4 linked regions of the Homo sapiens genome follow. The protein of the gene in region 1 purifies or fractionates together with the protein of each later gene. This does not show direct contact. Each region holds a gene or a part of one and is shown in the gene's direction. Other genes may lie near its edges.

What was found.
Region 2: the proteins of SPPL2B (region 1) and SURF4 purify together in Homo sapiens (co-immunoprecipitation; 3 studies listed by BioGRID and IntAct, with this or other methods). This does not show direct contact.
Region 3: the proteins of SPPL2B (region 1) and TXNDC15 purify together in Homo sapiens (co-immunoprecipitation; 3 studies listed by BioGRID and IntAct, with this or other methods). This does not show direct contact.
Region 4: the proteins of SPPL2B (region 1) and RMND1 purify together in Homo sapiens (co-immunoprecipitation; 3 studies listed by BioGRID and IntAct, with this or other methods). This does not show direct contact.

The regions. Positions count from the first base shown.
Region 1 is NC_000019.10:2,333,571-2,338,683, forward strand, and holds part of SPPL2B (signal peptide peptidase-like 2B isoform 2 precursor), read left to right. Parts: intron 1-1,031; coding exon 1,032-1,151; intron 1,152-3,872; coding exon 3,873-4,055; intron 4,056-4,061; exon of another isoform or gene 4,062-5,113. UniProt on the Homo sapiens protein: Intramembrane-cleaving aspartic protease (I-CLiP) that cleaves type II membrane signal peptides in the hydrophobic plane of the membrane. Functions in ITM2B and TNF processing.
Region 2 is NC_000009.12:133,362,823-133,366,983, reverse strand, and holds part of SURF4 (surfeit locus protein 4), read left to right. Parts: intron 1-308; coding exon 309-385; intron 386-955; coding exon 956-999; intron 1,000-1,957; coding exon 1,958-2,144; intron 2,145-3,224; coding exon 3,225-3,491; 3' UTR 3,492-3,508; coding exon of another isoform or gene 3,509-3,520; 3' UTR 3,521-4,161. UniProt on the Homo sapiens protein: Endoplasmic reticulum cargo receptor that mediates the export of lipoproteins by recruiting cargos into COPII vesicles to facilitate their secretion.
Region 3 is NC_000005.10:134,890,448-134,895,560, forward strand, and holds part of TXNDC15 (thioredoxin domain-containing protein 15 isoform 1 precursor), read left to right. Parts: intron 1-3,044; coding exon 3,045-3,208; intron 3,209-5,113. UniProt on the Homo sapiens protein: Acts as a positive regulator of ciliary hedgehog signaling. Involved in ciliogenesis.
Region 4 is NC_000006.12:151,413,437-151,418,549, reverse strand, and holds part of RMND1 (required for meiotic nuclear division protein 1 homolog), read left to right. Parts: intron 1-1,150; coding exon 1,151-1,271; intron 1,272-1,278; exon of another isoform or gene 1,279-1,469; intron 1,470-3,001; exon of another isoform or gene 3,002-3,132; intron 3,133-5,113. UniProt on the Homo sapiens protein: Required for mitochondrial translation, possibly by coordinating the assembly or maintenance of the mitochondrial ribosome.

The DNA.
Region 1 (5,113 bases):
CCCTCCTGGGAGGCGTCCAGGGCTTTGGGGCCTGGTCCTGCCCCCTACTTCATTTTGAGAGCGTGGCAAGGGCCCCAGCCCGTTCTGTCCTGGGCGCGGTGGCCACCACCCCTGCTTCTCTTGGCTGGCTTTGGCCTGTTGTCCCCGTTGTGTGTCAGGGGCTCCTGCCCGTGGATCCGGGCCTTCTCCCTGTGGCCTTCTCTGAGCTGCTGCTGCTGCAGGCTGGAGAGCAGGAACTTGAAGCCCTGGCTGGCTGTTCCTTCTCCCTCCTGCGAAGTGGGAGCTGCTGTGCTGGACTCTGCTGCTTTGGGGCTTCATGGGGAACATGACGCTGTCTGTCCTGCTGGTGGCAGCGTGACCTGTTGCAAACCTCAGCCTGTCCCACTCAGGACCCGGTGCCCGTAGGCCCCTTGGCCCACCTGCTTCCTGCTGTTCTACCAGTGGGAGCTGAGGGGTGCTGATCTGGGGATCCCCCTCGTCTGGGCCCCACCGTGTGCCTGGGCCCCCGTGTGCCTTGGAGCACCAGCCAACAAGCAGTGCCCACGGGGCTGTGGGTCAAAGGCCACCCAGACCTGAGGGGTGCAGAGGCTTGCTTGTCCAGGCCTCCCGCCCAGGCTGGGGGCCAGGTCCGCTGGGGCCCTGCCCTGCTTCCCTGCTCAGGGCTCTGCCCGTGGCTCTGCCCGTGGCTGTCATTCTCCCACCGTGCCCACTGATCCTGGGAGGCCCAGGAGGTGGTGCGATCCCTGTTTTTTGGTGCAGAAACTCGGGAGCCACAAAGGGGTGACCTGACACACTCATGGTCACCAGCCTGGGGCTCCCTGAGGAAGGTGAGCCAGTCTGGGTCTTTGCTGTAAACCACGTATGGTCACGTCCCTGTCTGTCCTGTCGAGAGGGGGAAGCATCCCAGACCACCTGGTGAACATGGGCGCCCTTCCTGGAGGCGTCCTCCCCTCCTCGGGCCTGTTTCTCGTGGGGCGGTGCAGCCCCGCACGTCCCGTGCTGTGGCTCTGACTGCTGGCCTTGTCCTGCAGGTGGCCTGTGAGTACGGCATGGTGCACGTGGTCTCCCAGGCCGGGGGCCCCGAAGGCAAAGACTACTGCATCCTCTACAACCCGCAGTGGGCCCATCTTCCGCACGACCTCAGCAAGGCAGTGAGTACCCGCTGGCCGGGCGCCGCTGCGGAGGAGAATGCGGGGGCCCCGGGGCTCTAGAGACACATCCGGCTGGGGTTGCAGGAAAGATCCAGAGGCGAGAGGCAGGCCCTGACCAGGTCTGGGGGACTCTTAGCTGGCCCCCAGTTCCCCTGGGCCTCCCCAACCCTGGTCATCAATGCAAGCTGTCCATGCGGCCTTGGGGTGCAGATCCAGAGGCACCGGCCGAGCTCCATGTGGTAGATAAGGGTCTCTACTGCTCCATGCCGGGGACCCTATCCAGTGGGCCCAGACAGAGGGGTCCTCAGAGGAGTAACAGCAGAGGGCACAGTGGGGCCCCAGGGACGAGACCTGTTCCTTTCACCGTCTTCCTGACTGGGGCACTAACACCTGCTGCTGGATGAGTCCCTCCCTCAGAGGCCCCACCTCCTTTCCCACTTAGTCCTCATGCCCCGCCTCCTTTCCCACCGCATCCCTCAGGCCCCGCCTCCTTTCCACTGCATCCTTCAGGCCCCGCCTCCTTTCCCACTGCATCCTTCAGGCCCCGCCTCCTTTCCCACTGCATCCTTCAGGCCCCGCCTCCTTTCCCACTGCATCCTTCAGGCCCCGCCTCATTTCCCACTGCATCCTTCAGGCCCCGCCTCCTTTCTCACTGCATCCTTCAGGCCCCGCCTTCTTTCCCACTGCATGCTTCAGGCCCCGCCTCCTTTCCCACTGCATGCTTCAGGCCCCGCCTCCTTTCTCATTGCATCCTTCAGGCCCCGCCTCCTTTCCCACTGCATCCCTCAGGCCCCGCCTCCTTTCTCACTTCATCCCTCAGGCCCTGCCTCCTTTTCCACTGCATCCCTCTGGCCCCGCCTCCTTTCCCACCACACCCCTCTGTCCCTGCCTCCTTTCCCACTGCATCCTTCAGGCCCCGCCTCCTTTCCCACCCCATCCCTCAGGCCCTGCCTCCTTTCCCACCGTATCCCTCAGGCCCTCTCTCCTTTCCCACCGCATCCCTCAGGCCCCGCCTCCTTTCCCACTGAGTCCCTCAGGCCCCGCCTCCTTTCCCACTGTGTCCCGCCCCCTCCTGGAGCCCTCGAGGTGTGCCGGCGAAGAGGCACTAGCATCTTCCTGTCAGCTTTATGCATAGTGTGTGCGTGTGAGCACGTGTGTAATCAGTATGTGCCTGGACATGCTCATGTGTCTGCATGTTTATGTGAGTTTGCATCAGTGTATGTGTGCATGTGCCTGAGTGTTTTTTTGTGTGTGAACACATAGGTGTGTGTCAACACATGTAATAGGTATGTGAACACATGTAATAGGTATGTGTGAAGACATGTGCCTGAGTGCATATTTCTGAGTTTGTGTGTGTGAGCACATGTGTACTAGATATGTGCATGGACATGTGTGCCTTAGTGCGTGTTTGTGTGTCAGCACACCTGTGTGTGTGAGCATGTGTGTAATAGGTGTGTGGGGGCATGTGCATGGGTCTGAATGTGTATGTCTGTTTTTATGTGCACATGTGCCTGTGAGTGTGCATGCAATAGTTTTGTGTATGGATGTGTGAGTGCATGTGTGTCTGTATGTGTGCAGGTGTGTGTAAGCATGTAGCTACATAATAGTTATGTTTGTGGATGTGTGCATGTGTCTGCACATGTGTGCGTGTGTACATGTGTAATAGGTCTGTGTGTATGTGTGTGTACATGTGGATAATAGGTTTGTGTGTGGATGTGTATGTGCCTGTGTGTTTGGGTTCGTGTGTGTGCATGAGTGTGTGTGAGTGCATGTGTAATAGGTATGTGCGTGTGAGTGTGTGAGTTCATGTGGCGTGTGTGTATGCATGTGTGTGTAATAGGTGTGTGTGCGTGAGCTTGAGTGCACAGGTATGTGCTTGTATATGCACACGTGTGCTGTGTGCTCTGGCCTGGCTGTGTGTGCGTGTGTGTGTGCATGTGTGTAATAGGCATGTGTCTGCTTGAGTGTGAGTGTGCATGTGTGTGCTTGCGTGTGCATATGTGTGCCATGTGGTCCGGCCTGGCTGTGTATGTGTGCACGTGTGTGTGCATGCACTCCAGCCTGGCTGTGGGTGTGTGTGTGTGTGCGCGCTGGCCTGGCTGCGGCTATGTGCGTGTGTGTGTGTGTGCACTCCAGCCTGGCTGTGGGTGTGTGCGTGTGCACTGGTCTGGCTGTGGGTGTGTGTGTGTGTGTGCATGTATGCATGTGTGTGCCGTGTGCTCCAGCCTGGCTGTGGACGTGTGCTTGTGTGTGCGCGTGTTCCGGCCTGGCTGTGGGTGTGTGTGTGCGTGTGCGTGTGTGTGTGCGTGTGTGTCTTGGCTTCAGGGGCTGTGAGGCCCCTGAGAGTTGGGGCTTTGTTCTCTGCACACTGGAAACCCTCCCCCTTCTCACAGATGCCTGGCCGTGGTGGGGCTGCGGTGGGGACCCACTTGGTCTTGCTGAGTGATCTGTGACGGCTCGCGGGGTGGCTCAGGTATCAGGGGACAGCCATGTCTGTGAGGACTCCGGCCCCGCTCAGATGAGGCAGCCCAGCCCGTCGCCCAGGGTCCGGCTGTGGGAGCTGCAGTAGGGATGGCTCTGCCTAGGTGGGCCGAGGCCGTGCGGGGCTTTAGGTGAGGGCTGGGATCTAACTCAGCGCAGGCTTCAGGTGGGAGAACGGGCAGCTGGGCCCTCCTGGTGACTCACATCACGTGAGACAACACTGTGCCCTGGCCTTTCCAGTCTTTCCTGCAGCTGCGCAACTGGACGGCCTCCCTGCTCTGCTCCGCAGCCGACCTCCCCGCCCGTGGCTTCAGCAACCAGATCCCGCTGGTGGCGCGGGGGAACTGCACCTTCTATGAGAAAGTGAGGCTGGCCCAGGGCAGCGGAGCACGCGGGCTGCTCATCGTCAGCAGGGAGAGGCTGGTACGGCCCTGTGCGTCCCCCGCTGGGCCAGCTCTCAGGGGCAGGAGGGGGGTGCAGGAGGCAGAGATGGCAGCAGCTGGGGCTGGTCTTCCGACTTCTCGCTAAAGGCAGATCCATCTGTGGGGAGGATCTGGGCCGAGTGTGAACATGGGGAGGATCCGGGCCGAGTGTGGCCGTGGGGAGGGCGGAGATGAGTCTGTTCTTCCTGAGCTGCTGGCTGGGGCTGTGGAACTTTGGCCGTGGTCTTGTTGGGTGCCTGTCCTAGAGCAGCCCCCAGGGGTGACGGAGACCACACTCTCTGTGGGGATGGGATTGGGGTGGCTTCTGAGGAGCAGGTGGCCTGGCCCTGAGCTGGTCCTTTCTGGGTACCCTGGTGCCCTTGCCCTCTAGCCGGTGGGGCCGTGCTCGCCTGTGGTCCTAGCCAGGTGGCCTGAAGCCTGGCCCCTTTTCCATCTTCTGTGAAATGGGGCTGTGGTTGAGAGCTGGGGGCCTGGCAGGGCTGGTCACAGCACAGGGACATGCCGACTGCTGGGCTGGGCAGGGTGCGTGGCCGCCCCTGAAGTGTAGTTTTGGAGTAAGAAGGAATGGAGTTCAGGAATTCCCTCACAGCTCTGCCTGTGGCTCTGGGCTGCCCCCGCCAGTGTTGCACCCTGAGCCTGGCAATCCACGGAGGCCTGGTGCAGGGGCTCAGGGCCGAGGGCAGAGCAGGCCGGGCAGAGCCGAGAGTGCCATCCCTGTCCGCACACGCTGCCGTCGTAGTTGAGAGAGGCCCTCAGTGGGTGCGGGGCTCAAGGCGGCTTAGTGGGCAGGCATGGGCTGTGACAAGTATCACTCAGGACTTGTATGTGCGGTTCGGGAGTCCCACGGCCGAGGGAGGGATTAGTGGCGCTTTTAGGCCTGGGGCCCTGTTGTCAGGTGAAGAAGGCTTGATGCCCTTCGGCCTCCCTGTTCTTGGGTCCTCCTGGGGGGCCGGAGGCTGTCAGCTGCAGAGGGGGAGCCAGCAGGCGCCCCCAGCCTGACCCGAGCCTCGAGTGAGGGTCCCAGGAGAGGAGGCGAAT
Region 2 (4,161 bases), on another chromosome or scaffold:
GCTGGCAGTCCACAGTAGAGCAGTTAATTGCCTACCTCAGGTGGGTGGCTGACTTGGGAGCTGATTGTGGGAAACAGCCCATTCTTTATGACGGCAAGGGCTCCACTTTCTGGTGTTTGTGATAAGTCTAGTCAGCTTACCATGTGTGGTCCTTGCCTATCATTAATTCTTCCAGAAGTTGTCTTTTGCTTGGGTAGGTGGTTTGGCTGCCTCTGGACCTAAGGGCCAGGTGAGGTAGCAGTGTATCAAGACAGTGCTCCCCGCCGGCACCCACCCTCAGGCCCCCTAACCCTTGTCCTTCTCTCCAGCTGGCTGCGTCCTGGTGTTGAGCAGGAACTTCGTGCAGTACGCCTGCTTCGGGCTCTTTGGAATCATAGCTCTGCAGGTACACGGGCCGCGTGGTCGGGGCTCCCTTCTCTTTGCTCTGGTGGAGCAGAGCTTCTGAAAAGACATCCTTGAGGGTTCAGTGTCACTCCCCCTTCAGCCCCCTGCATGTCTCTGACTGCCTGGAGCTCCTTTCTCTTCTGGGGAAGTCGTGAGCCCAAGCAGGGCTGTAGAGGCAGGTCATTCGGTACTGGGCCATCTTTTGTCCCATTTCTATGATTACCGTGACAAGGGAAGTCTCGAGCTTGGCTGCAGCCAGGATGCTGTCTTGTTATCACGTTGCTTCATAAAGAAGAATACTTGGTTATTCAGAATGAAATGCTGGGAACAGAATATCTGAATCCACATCAGTGGTCTCAGAATCACTTTGTTCTCTGGAACATCATAGCACATTTCTTGAGAAATACAGAACCACATTTTTGAGCTTAGATCTGTCCTCGGTCTCCTACAATGGTTTTGTGTGTTTTAGACTCCAGCTGACATTGGAGAGACGGCCTAATGTATTATGAAGTCTGTGGAAATGCCTTTGGAAAGGCTGAGACTCAAGTATCTCTCTCTTCTTTCCCCTCAGACGATTGCCTACAGCATTTTATGGGACTTGAAGTTTTTGATGAGGTATGTGCATTCTGGTTGGTTTTAGTATACGCTCCTTCTACAGGTTGAGCATTGCAAATCCAAAGTCTGAAATGCTCCAAAATGGGAAAAATCTTGGGCACCAACATGACGCTCAAAGGAAGTGCTCATTGGAGCATTTCAGGTTTTGGATTTTCAGATTTGGGATGCTCAGCCAATAAGTATATAATGCAAATATACCAAAATCTGAAACACTTTGGGTCCTAAGCATTTCAGGTTAGGGATACTCAATCTGTATTTCTAAACTCAGTTAACTATTGGTTTGAGTAGACTTCTCTGGGTCTAAACCAAGCTTGTCCAGCCTGTGGTCCACGGGGTGAACATGGCCCAACACAAACTCAAAAACTTTCTTAAAACATTGAGAGTTTTTTTTGTGATTTTTAAGTTTTATTTTTTAGCTCATCACCTATCATTAGCATTAGTGTATTTTATGTGTGGCCAAGACAGTTCTTCCAGGGTAGCCCAGGGAAGCCAAAAGATTGGACCCCCCTGTCTAAATTGTGCCTCTTAGAAACAGGTTCTGAAGAGGATGTTGCAGAGCCCCTAGAATAGTAGAGACTGAAGCCGTCTCTTCTGACCCTTATTTCACGGGTGTGGGGACTCCGGGTCTGAGTGGAGGACAGACCTGACCACGGGGACCCAGCTGGTCAACACTGAAGCTGTGACTAGGACTCGGTTGTGTGTGTGTTCAGGTAGCCTGTCACTGTCGAGTTGTAAAGATACCTCTGTCTCCTGAGCTATGTAAGGTTTTACATGGGTGTAACTCGAGTCTGAGGTCCTGTGCGCATGCCTGCCTGGTCCTGCTTGGCAGATCACTGGGTTTGGAGAAAGGGAAGTAAGGGCCTTCTTATACTGGCAGCAAGGTCTCCCTGCACCTGGTCTCACAGACAGGCCAGATCCTGGTGAGGCTTAGCTTCCAGCCCACATATCTGTTCCTCAGGAACCTGGCCCTGGGAGGAGGCCTGTTGCTGCTCCTAGCAGAATCCCGTTCTGAAGGGAAGAGCATGTTTGCGGGCGTCCCCACCATGCGTGAGAGCTCCCCCAAACAGTACATGCAGCTCGGAGGCAGGGTCTTGCTGGTTCTGATGTTCATGACCCTCCTTCACTTTGACGCCAGCTTCTTTTCTGTAAGTATTCCTACTTGCCTGAACCGGTCTGGTTTCCTGTGAATGCTGTCCCTCCCCCACCCCCTCCCTGCTCACCCCTCCCTGGTTGGGTATTAACCACAGCCTGGGGGAGCTGCTGAAATGGAGCAAACTTTTTTTTTTTTTTTTTTGAGACGGAGTCTCGCTCTGTCCCCCAGGCTGGAGTGCAGTGCGTGATCTCGGCTCACCGCAAGTTCCGCCTCCCGGGTTCACGCCATTCTCCTGCCTCAGCCTCCCGAGCAGCTGGGACTACAGGCGCCTGCCAACACGCCTGGCTAATTTTTTGTATTTTTAGTAGAGACAGGGTTTCACCGTGTTAGCCAGGATGGTCTCGATCTCCTGACCCCTCGTGATCTGCCTGTCTCAGCCTCCCAAATTGCTGGGATTACAGGCGTGAGCCACCGTGCTCGGCGGAGCAAACTTTTTGATCCCATTAAAACAGACCAAAACATCGTCAATCTCTTGTGTGTCAAGCCTTCTTTCCAGCAAATGAAGGCCAGAACCTCTGACCTTGGTGGAGTGTGCTTGGCCCTTGGTTGGCCAAGGCTCTCCACCCGGGCTCCCCTTACTCTTCTTTCTTTCCTCACTGTTCGTATCTTTCTCAAGTAATTCCTGTGTGTCAGGTGTCAGGGGCAGGCCTCCAGGAGCTTCCAGAGCACACCTCCGGAGCTGACTGAGAGCCCTGGCCGGGTAGTGTCCAGGAAGAGCTCCTGGCGCCATGGAGAGAGGAGAGAGGATGTTTCTGGCCTGGATGGCTGGGTGGGCCAAGAAGCACTTGGGAATTTAGTTATGGATTAGAGATTCATCTTGGTAAATCACAGCCTGTTACTAGTTGGGAACTTCAGTCTTCCCCAAACCTTCCACATTTCAAAGCTGGTGCTTTATTGCCTCCTGCCTCCCTTTGGCTTTTATCTCCCTACTTGCACCAGCAGCCGTCTCAGCAGTAGCTACATCAGCCTGATGGATAGAGACTTCATGACGTGCAGCAGCTGGAACTTTTGTTTATAAAGCATCTCTTTTCCTCACATTTATTTTGAATTTCTTACGTTTCAACCTATGCAGATTGTCCAGAACATCGTGGGCACAGCTCTGATGATTTTAGTGGCCATTGGTTTTAAAACCAAGCTGGCTGCTTTGACTCTTGTTGTGTGGCTCTTTGCCATCAACGTATATTTCAACGCCTTCTGGACCATTCCAGTCTACAAGCCCATGCATGACTTCCTGAAATACGACTTCTTCCAGACCATGTCGGTGATTGGGGGCTTGCTCCTGGTGGTGGCCCTGGGCCCTGGGGGTGTCTCCATGGATGAGAAGAAGAAGGAGTGGTAACAGTCACAGATCCCTACCTGCCTGGCTAAGACCCGTGGCCGTCAAGGACTGGTTCGGGGTGGATTCAACAAAACTGCCAGCTTTTATGTATCCTCTTCCCTTCCCCTCCCTTGGTAAAGGCACAGATGTTTTGAGAACTTTATTTGCAGAGACACCTGAGAATCGATGGCTCAGTCTGCTCTGGAGCCACAGTCTGGCGTCTGACCCTTCAGTGCAGGCCAGCCTGGCAGCTGGAAGCCTCCCCCACGCCGAGGCTTTGGAGTGAACAGCCCGCTTGGCTGTGGCATCTCAGTCCTATTTTTGAGTTTTTTTGTGGGGGTACAGGAGGGGGCCTTCAAGCTGTACTGTGAGCAGACGCATTGGTATTATCATTCAAAGCAGTCTCCCTCTTATTTGTAAGTTTACATTTTTAGCGGAAACTACTAAATTATTTTGGGTGGTTCAGCCAAACCTCAAAACAGTTAATCTCCCTGGTTTAAAATCACACCAGTGGCTTTGATGTTGTTTCTGCCCCGCATTGTATTTTATAGGAATAGTGAAAACATTTAGGGACACCCAAAGAATGATGCAGTATTAAAGGGGTGGTAGAAGCTGCTGTTTATGATAAAAGTCATCGGTCAGAAAATCAGCTTGGATTGGTGCCAAGTGTTTTATTGGGTAACACCCTGGG
Region 3 (5,113 bases), on another chromosome or scaffold:
CCCAGGCGGGAGTGCAGTGGCGTGATCTCAGCTCACTGCAACCTCCATCTACCAGGTTCAAGCTATTCTCCCACTGCAGCCTCTCGCCGAATAACTGGGATTACAGGCGTGCTTCACATGCCCAGCTAATTTTTGTATTTTTAGTAGAGACAGGGTTTCACCATGTTGGTCAGGCTGGTCTTGAACTCCTGACCTCAAGTGATCTGCCCACCTTGGCCTTCCAAAGTGCTGGGATTACAGGCATGAGCCACCACACCTGGCCTGTGGCCCACAGTTTCTTAATTCCTTTCACGAAAGAATTCTCTGTAGCATGCAATGCTGTTTGATAGCATTTTACCCACAGTAGAACTTCTTTCAAAGTTGGAGTCAATCCTCTCAAACCCTGCTGCTGCATTATCAACTAAGTTTATGGAATATTCTAAATCCTTTGTCGTCATTTCAACAGTGTTCACAGCATCTTCACCAGGCGTAGATGCCATCTCAAAAACCTACTTTCTTTGCTTATCCATAAAAATCAACTCCTCATCTCTTCAAGTTTTATCATGAGATTGTAGCAATTCAGTCCTATCTTCAGACTCCACTTCTAATCCTAGTTTTCTTGCTATTTCTACCACATCCGCAGTTCCATTCTCCATTGAGGTCTTGAATTCCTCAAAGTCATCCACGAGGGTTGGAGTCAGCTTATTCTAAACGCCTATTAATGTTGATATTTTGACCACCTGCCATGAATCACAGATATTTTTAAAGTCATCTAGAATGGTAAATCCTTTCCAGAAGGTTTTAAATTTATTTTGCCCAAATCCATCAGAGGAATTGCTATCTATGGCAACTATAGCCTTATGAAATGTATTTCTTAAATAATAAGAGTTAAAAGTTGAAATCCCTCCTTGATTCATGGGCTGCAGAATGGATGCTGTGTTAGCAGGCCTGAAAACAACATTCATCTCCTTGTGCATCTCCACCAGAACTCTTGGTTGACCAGGTGCATTGTCAACGAGTATAATATTTTGAAAGGAATCTTTTTTTCTGAGCAGTAGGTCTCAACAGTGGGCCTAAAATACTCAGGAAACCATGCTGTAAACAGATGTACTGTCATCCAGGCTTTGTTGTTCCTTTTCTAGAGCACAGGCAAAATAAATTTAGCATAATTTTTAAAGGCCCCAGGATCTTCAGAATGGGCAATGAGCAATGAGCATTGGCCCTGTGGTTGCTCATACCTGTAATCCCAGTACTTTCAGAGGCCAAGGTGGGTGGATTGCTTAAACCTAGGAGTTCCAGACCAGCCTGGGGAACATGGTGAAACCTTATCTCTACAAAAAATACAAAAACTTGCCAGGCATGGTGGTGGGCACCAGCTACTTGGGAGGCTGAGGCAGGAGGATTGCTTGAGCCCAGAGGCTGAGGCTGCCATGAGCCATGATTGCGCCACTGTACTCCAGCCTGGGTGACAGAGCAAGACCTTGTCAAATAAATAAATAAATAAATAATAAGATTTATTGTTAAATAAATAAATAAGACCGCAGCTACACTGGCCTCTAAAAAGAGTCCGCCTGTCCTTTGAAGCCAGGCATTGACATCTCTTGTCTAGCTATGAAAGTCCTAGAAGCCACCTTATTCCAATAGAAGGCTGTCTTATCTACATGAAAATTGATTTTTGAGTATAGCCACCTTCATCAATTCTCTTAGCTAGATGTTCTGGGTAAGTTGTTGCAGCTTCTTTTTTTTTTTCCCCATTGATCTTTGATGTTACTATGTTGTAGCTTCTCTATCAGCACTTGCTGCCTCACCTTGCACTTTTATGTTCTGGAGACAGCTTCTTTCTTAAACCTCATGAGCCAACCCCAGCTAATTTCAGACTTTTCCTCTGCAGTTTCCTCACCTCTCTCAGCCTTCGTAGAATTGAAGAGAGTTAGGGCCTTGCTCTGGATTTAGGCTTTGGCTTAAATGTTGTGACTGGTTTGATCGTCTATCTATAGCATTAAGATTTTCTCCATATGAGCAATAATGCTGTTTTGCTTTCTTATCATTTGCATATTCATTGAGTAGCACTTATTTTTATTTTTAAGCATCAGAGGTCACCACACTGGATGGAGTAGCACATTAACTTCCTTTAAAAACTTTTCCTTTGCATTTATAATGTGGCTGTTTGGTGTAAGAGGCCTAGCTTTCAGCCTGTCTCCTATGTTGGCATTCGGCATGGCTTCCTCACTAAGTTTAATCAATCATTTTTGGCTTTGATTTAAAATGAGAGATGTACAACTCTTCCTTTCACGAGAGATGTACAACTCTTCCTTTCACTTAAACAGAGGCCACTGTAGGGTTATTAATTCACCTAATTTCAATATTGTTGTGTCTCAGGGAGAGGCCTGAGGAGAGGGAGAGAGATGGGGAATAGCTGGTCGGTGGAACAGTCAGAACATAGACATTTACTGATAAAGTTCACTGTCTTCTATGGGTACAGTTGGTGGCGCCCCAAAACAATTACAATAGTAACATCAAAGATACTTATCATAGATCACCATAACAGATATAATAATAATGGAAGAGTTTGAAATATTGCAAGAATTACCAAAATGTGACACAGACACAAATTGAGCACATGCTGTTGGAAAAATGGTGCTGAAAAACTTGCTGGATGCCGAGTTGCCACAAACTTTCAATCTGCAAAAAATGCAATGTCAGCAAAGTGCAATGGAGTGAAATGCAGTAAAATGAGGTATGCCTGTATTTGAAATGATGAATTATGAAAAATATTAAAATAACTTGTAATATTAGGAAAGCGCAGAGGAAAGTTTAAAACTTTCTGCTTAATTCAGCAAGACTTAAAAAAAGTGAAAGTTTATAACTTGTCATTTGATCATACTTTTTTGCTGGTTCCTGGATTCATATGGTTCAAAATCCAAAAGGTTCCGAGGGTTCCTTCTCTCGCTGCTCCTACCCACCCGTTCCTCTCCCTGGAGCAGCAGTGTGTCCTGTTTCTTGGGTATCCTTTCAGAAAAATGTACTTTTACTGCTAACTTTAATGCTTGTTTCTTTTACCACAGGACCTTATGGATTTTCTGAACCCAAACGGTAGTGACTGTACTCTAGTCCTGTTTTACACCCCGTGGTGCCGCTTTTCTGCCAGTTTGGCCCCTCACTTTAACTCTCTGCCCCGGGCATTTCCAGCTCTTCACTTTTTGGCACTGGATGCATCTCAGCACAGCAGGTATCTTCCATTGGTGGGGTTTACGTCCATCCTCCTGGCTGATGGTTGCAGTTATTTGGAGGTCCTAATTAGTTAAGTTAGAAGCAGAAGAGGGGGGGCATGAACTGTGTCCTGGGATGGAAGGCAAGGCAAGAGTGAATAGTGAGGATTATCATACTCCTGAGGGAGCTGGTGGTGTCACTTTATGGAGGCCCCTTAAAGAAAGTGGGCTGTTCTCTGTGTGGTGGATTTAAAGGTGGCAGGTGGTAGCACCTGATGGCAGGGGAGGGGCCAGAAGACTTTTGAGGGCCATAGCCAGACTGAATCAGCACAATTGGTATCACAGTAGGATATTCCTTTGTGACTTTAAGGCGCAGGTTAAATCCCCATCCCAGGCAGCCCAATTCCCAGCACCCCTGTTTTGTGTCTACTCAGGATTTCTTCCCTTCCTTTTCTTTTTCTTTCCTTCTTTTCCCTTTCCCTCTTTCCTTCTTTCTTTCCTGCGTACTTATTCTTGCAGTCATGTTCTGTAGTAGGCACTCGATCAAGTCATGAATTAATTTAGCTCTTTAACATGACATTTATCTTTGTTTTATATTTCTCGTGTATCATTCACTGGGTTTTTGTCCAGGCTGGCCTTGAACTCCTGGGCTCAAGCGATCGTCCTGACTTAACCTCCTGAGTAGCAGGACTACAGGCATGCGCCACCATGCCAGGCTGGTCATTTTTTTTTTCTTTTTTTTTTTTTTTTGAGGTGGAATCTTGCTCTGTCACCCAGGCTGGAGTGCAATGGTGTGATCTAGGCTCACTGCAACCTCTGCCTCCCAGGTTCAAGTGATTCTCCTGCCTCAGCCTCCTGAGTAGCTGGGATTACAAGCACCTGCCACCATGCCGGCTAATTTTGTATTTTTAAACGGGGTTTCACCGTTTGTTGGCCAGGCTGGTCTCGAACTCCTGACCTTGTGATCTACCAGCCTCGGCCTCCCAAAGTGCTGGGATTACAGGTGTGAGCCACTTTTTGTCTTTTTTAAATGTTTAGTAAAGTAAGTTACAGAGAACTTTGTTGAGATGGTATATGTTTCTCCTAAGTGCTGCGATTGTGCCTGAGTTATAAACTGTTCTTCTCTTCCAAATCAGATGCTCCTTAGTAGGTCAGCCTCAACAAGGAGGTTGTGTGTAAATAAATCTAGAACATCTGAAAAATGGTCAATTGGTGGTAAAATGAAGTTGAGTAAACTTCCATTACTCTGTACTTGAGGCCAGGTGCAGTGGCTCACACCTGTAATCCCATCACTTTGAGAGGCCAAGGTAGAAGGATTGCTTGAGCCCAAGAGTTTGAGACCAGCCTGGACAACATGGCAGAACTCCATCTCTATAAAAAAAAATACAAAAAATTGACTGAGGATGGTGGCACATACCTGTGGTACCCCAGCTACTTGGGAGGCTGAGGTGGGAAGATTGCCTGAACCAGGGGAGGTCAAGGTCACAGTGAGCCGTGATCCTGTCACTGCACTCCAGCCTGGGCTACAGAGTGAGACCCTGTCTCAAAAAAAAAAAAATTGTATTCCACTGATTTTCATTGTGGGAATATAACTGCCAATGTTTACCTGAAACTTTTATGAAGAAAGAAATGGCTCAACAAATTAGTAATTTTCATATAGGCTTCTGGGTTATATCTAAGTGACTGGGCCCAAGGGAGCAGACTGATTGGAAGGACAGATCACGTCAGTGTCCAGCTTTGGTGGGGCCTCCACTGCCCCCAGGCATACTCAGTGCTCTTTGGTTCTGGGTCTCACACTGTCCCTCCTGCCTCTCCCGCAACTCCCTCCCTAACCTGCTTTCTTCTTTCCTTCCTTCAGCTCCATGTTGTATCTTAATTATGGAGACTAAGGCTCTTGCTGTTATTATATGGGCTGGGACATGTTT
Region 4 (5,113 bases), on another chromosome or scaffold:
AGGAGTTTGAGGCTGCGGTAAGCTATGATTGTGTCACTGCACCCCAAACTGGGTGACATATGAAGACATTATCTCTAAAAAAATTTTTTAAATAAAAAACAAAAAAGTGTGGACATATTAAATTTTTTTTTTATTTGAGATGGGGTCTCACTATGTTGCCTAGGCTGGAGTACAGTGTCACAGTCTTGGCTCACTGCAGCCTCTGCCTCCGAGGTTCACATGATCCTCCCACCTCAGCCTCCCAAGTAGCTGGGACTACAGGCATACACCACCACACCTGGCTAGTTCTTGTATTTTTTGTAGAGATAGGGTTTCGCTGTGCTGTCCAGGTTGGTCTTGAACTCACAGACTCGAGCAATCTGCCCGCCTTGGCCTTCCAAAGTGCTGGGATTACAGGCATGAACCACCATGCCTGGCCCTAAAATTTTTAATAAAAAAAGTTTAGGCTGGGAATGGTGGCTCACACCTGTAATCCCAGCACTTTGGGAGGCTGAGGTAGGCAGATCACGTGAGGTCAGGAGTTCGAGACCAGCCTGGCCAACTTGGTAAAACCCTTTACTAAAAATACAAAAAATTAGCCAGGTGTGATGGTAGGCACCTGTAATCCCAGCTACTTGGGAGGCTGAGGCAGGAGAATTGCTTAAATCTGGGAGGCAGAGGTTGCAGTGAGCTGAGATCATGCCATTGTACTCCAGCCTGGGTGACAAGAGTGACTCTGTCTCAAAAAAAAAAAAAAAATTGAAAACAAAATGAGTTTTTTTCTGTGTACTTCATAAATAATGTTGGTATTAAAGATTGAATTAATTTGGTTCAGAAGTTTGAAACTCATTTGTAAATTTTATTTACATGTTTGTTGGCAGTATTTTGCAAAGGTCAGCATTAACAAATGTTTTCAGCCACATGCAATGCCACATGCCTGTAGTTCCAGCTACATGGGAGGCTGAGGCAGGAGAACAGCTTGAGCCCAGGAGTTCAGTTTGCAGTGAGTTGTGATCACACCACTGCACTCCATCCCGGGTAACATAGCAAGACCCTCTCTCTTACCAAAAAAAAAAAAGTTTTCATAAAGCACTATGTAAATATTAAATACAATAGAAACAATGATTTTTAATTCAAGATAAATAAAAAGTTATAATTTTCCTTTTTAAAGGCACCGTATAAACTTGAGTTCAGACTTCCTGATTACTCCTGATTTCTACTGGGACAGAGAAAACCTGGAAGGACTTTACGATAAAACGTGTCAATTCCTTAGCATTGGCCGAAGAGTTAAGGTACGTATTTTGCACTTCTAATGAGAGAAAAAGACACGTTGTCGCCTATAAGTTGAATATGTTTAACTGCTTGCAGAGAAATATCTTGTTTGACTTCCATTCAAATCTCTTTATATTTCCCCTTCTTGTCCTCTGTACAGTCACTTCAATTTTTTGTGTCAAAGGATCTTCTGATATTAGCTCTACAGACTAGATAAGGTTGGTGAATAAGATGAGAGTTTGGAAGCCTAATGGTCCATCAGTAAGTTCTTGTCAAGTTTCAAGCAAGAGTTCATGACTGCTTCTGATCTGTCATGGTGACAGTGAGAATAGAAATAAATTTAAGAAAGAATCATGTAAGACAAATCAAGTGATGGGTAATAAGAGGCCATGGAGAAGAAAGAATAAAGGATGACTGATGTTTGCCTGGAGGTGACAAGTAGAAAGGTGGAAAAACAATAATGAGAGGTCAGAGAGGGGAGGTGACAGACTAAATCTAAGATATGCTGAGATTAGAGTAGCAACAAGATATCCAATTAGCTCCGTCATGCAGGCATTTAGAAGGGCAGAAGCAAAGTCGGGAAAAGAGACGTGTATTAAGAAATCCCAGCACTTTGGGAGGCTGAGGCGGATGGATCACCTGAGGTTGGGAGTTTGAGACCAGCCTGGCCAACATGGCGAAACCCTGTCTCTACTAAAAATACAAAAATTAGCCAGGCATGGTGGCATTCTCCTATAGTCCGAGCTACTCGAGAGGCTGAGGCAGGAGAATCACTTGAACCCAGGAGGTGGAGGTTGCAGTGAGCCAAGGTCGAGCCAGTGCACTCCAGCCTGGATGACAGAGTGAGACTCCGTCTCAAAAAAAAAAAAAAAAAAAAAGCTGTAGTGATGGAGGTAGACCACATGGGGAAAGAGCATAGAAAACAGAAAATTGACATTAGTACAATGTGTGCACATAGTTCTGTGACATTTTGCCACATCTATAGATCCATGCAACCACATGATCAAGACACAAAACTGTGCCAGGTGCGGTGGCTCATGCCTGTAACCCCAGCACTTTGTGAGGCTAGAGGTGGGCAGATCACTTGAGGTCAAGAGTTCGAGACCTGCCTGGCCAATATGGTAAAACGCTGTCTCTACTAAAAATACAAAAATTAGCTGGGTGTGGTGGCGCGTGCCTGTAGTCCCAGCTACTCGGGAGGCTGAGGCAGCAGAATCGCTTGAACCCAGGAAGTGGAGGTTGCAGTGAGCTGAGGTCATGCCATTGCACTCCAGCCTGGGCGTTGCAGCGAGACTCCATCTCAAAAAAAACAAAACAAAAAGACACAAAACTGTTTTATCACTTTTCCTCATGCTACCCTGTATAGTCACACTGCCCTCCCCCTACCCGGACTGTCCCTAACCCCTGGCAGTGAGTAATCTCTTCTCCATCTCCATAATTTTGTCATTTTGAGGATGTTATATAGATAGTCATACAGTATGTGACTTTTTTTTTTTTTTTTTTTTTGAGACGGAGTCTTGCTCTGTTGCCCAGGCTGGAGTGCAGTGGCTCAATCTTGGCTCATTGCAAGCTCTGCCTCCCGGGTTCACGCCATTCTCCTGCCTCAGCCTCCTGAGTAGGTGGGACTACAGGCACCCGCCACCAAGCCCAGCTAATTTTTTTTTGTATTTTTAGTAGAGATGGGGTTTCACTGTGTTTAGCCAGGATGGTCTCGATCTGTATGTGACTTTTTAACTGGCTTTTTTCACAGAGCATAATGCCCTCAACTTGGATCCATCCAAATTGTTGCTTGTATCAAAGTTCCTGTCTTCCTGTGGTTACTGAAACAATTTTTTGGTATTTCATTTTGATGTTACTTTTTAATATATCTCGTTGCATAGATATTTAGTAGTTGCTCTGGTTATTACATCTTACGTATATAACTTATTACAATCTACTGATTTCAACATCTTGCAGATTAAATGAAGTATAGAATCTTTATTTCCCTAATGGATGATTGGATGCAGAAAAAAAAAAAGAATTCTTATTTCTTTTATATTCCTTTACCCTTCCGTATTTATAATTTTCTTAACTATTCTTCTGCAGACATAGAAAACTTCATCAGATAATGTTATAATTTTTGCTTCAACCATCAAACATAATTTAGAAAACTAAGAAAAGCAAAGTCTGTTGTATGTGCCCATGTTTTTATTCTTTCTGTTCTTTTCTCCTTCTGATCTTCTAAGATTTCTTTTACTGTTTTTTTTTTTCAAGAACTTTATTTAGCCATTCTTTTAAGGTAAGTCTAGTGAGACAAATTCTCTTAGTTTGTCTTCATCTGAGAGTGTATTAATTTTCTCTTCATTCTTGCAGGATATTTTCCTAGAAATAGGATTCTAGGTAGACAGTTTTCTTTCTTTCAGCACCTGAAAAATGCCATGCCACTTCCTTCTGACCTCCATGGTTTCTGACGGAAATCTGCCATAATTCTATGACATCTACATTTTATCTTTTATTATCATTTCACAAGGTCTTTGAGGCTCTGTTCACTTCTTTTCCAGTATATTTTGTCTCTGTTAAGATTGGGTAATGTCCTTTGTTTCATCTTCTAGTTGATTGATTCCTTCCTCTGTTACATTCGTTCTGCTGCCCAACATTGAGTTTATTTCATTTATTATATTTTTCAGTTCTAAAATTTCCATGTTTTTTTATTTGTATCTTCTGTTTCTTTGCAGAGACTTCCTGCTTTTTCGTTTGTTTCAAATGTGTTCAGAATTGCTTGTTGAATCATTTTTATGATGGTTGCTCTAACATCATCTAATAATACCTAACCTCAGATACCTCTTGATATTAGTGTCTACTGATTGTCTTTTCTGATTCCCTCCAACTAATTTTAATACCTCCAGTTTCCCTCATTGCCTCAAGTGTTCTGGCTTGATATACAAGGTCCTTCCTATTGTTTCTGTTTTTCAATCATATTTCCTACCAATCCCCACATTCACCTTGTATCACATCAAAAATAAGTGATTAGCCTGGGAAACACAATGAGACCTCATTTCTACTAACCTTTTTTTTAAAAAAATTAGCCAGGTATAATGGCATGTGCCTGTAGTCTCAGCTACCCTGGGAGGTTGAGGCAGGAGGATTGCTTTAGCCCAGGAGTTTGAGGCTGCAGTGAGCCATGATCACGCCACTACATCCCAGTCTAGGTGACAGAGTGAGACCCTGTCTCAAAAAAATAAAAATAAAAAATACATGATTTATAATTTCAAAAACCTACCATGGCTTATTGAATGCTATGTTCCACTTTAGTGTCTACATTTTTTTCCTCTAAGCTAGACACCGCCCCTTGCAAAACCACATCAAAGCTATCTGCAGTTGTCACTGATCTTGGCACCACCTATTCCTCTGTAGGTGTCTTCCAGCACAGGACAGTAGAGATCATCACCACTCGGCAAGAAAACCAAGCTATGTTGCTTTTAGCTGACACAGAAAGATTGATTAGTGATGGTTTAGGAATCAAATTCAGTGGACTCCATCAACACAGTTTTAGATAACAGAGGTGTAATTAGACACCGATTTGACAGTCCAACTGTCTGGTCAAACATGAAAAGCACTGGACTTTCCTGGTTGTCGACTGTGCACACAGGCTGAAGATCCAGAGGAGGAAAGGGAGGGATACTAAAAGCTTTATACAGTTGAGGTATTTCCTGTGGTTGTGTTAGCTATTGCTGTGTAACAAATTACCCCAAAACTTGGTGGACTGAAACACCACTTACTGGCTGGGCACGGTGGCTCACGCCTGTTACCCCAGCACTTTGGTAGGCCAAGGCAGGCAGGTCACATGAGGCCAGGAGTTCAAGACCAGCCTGGCCAACATGGT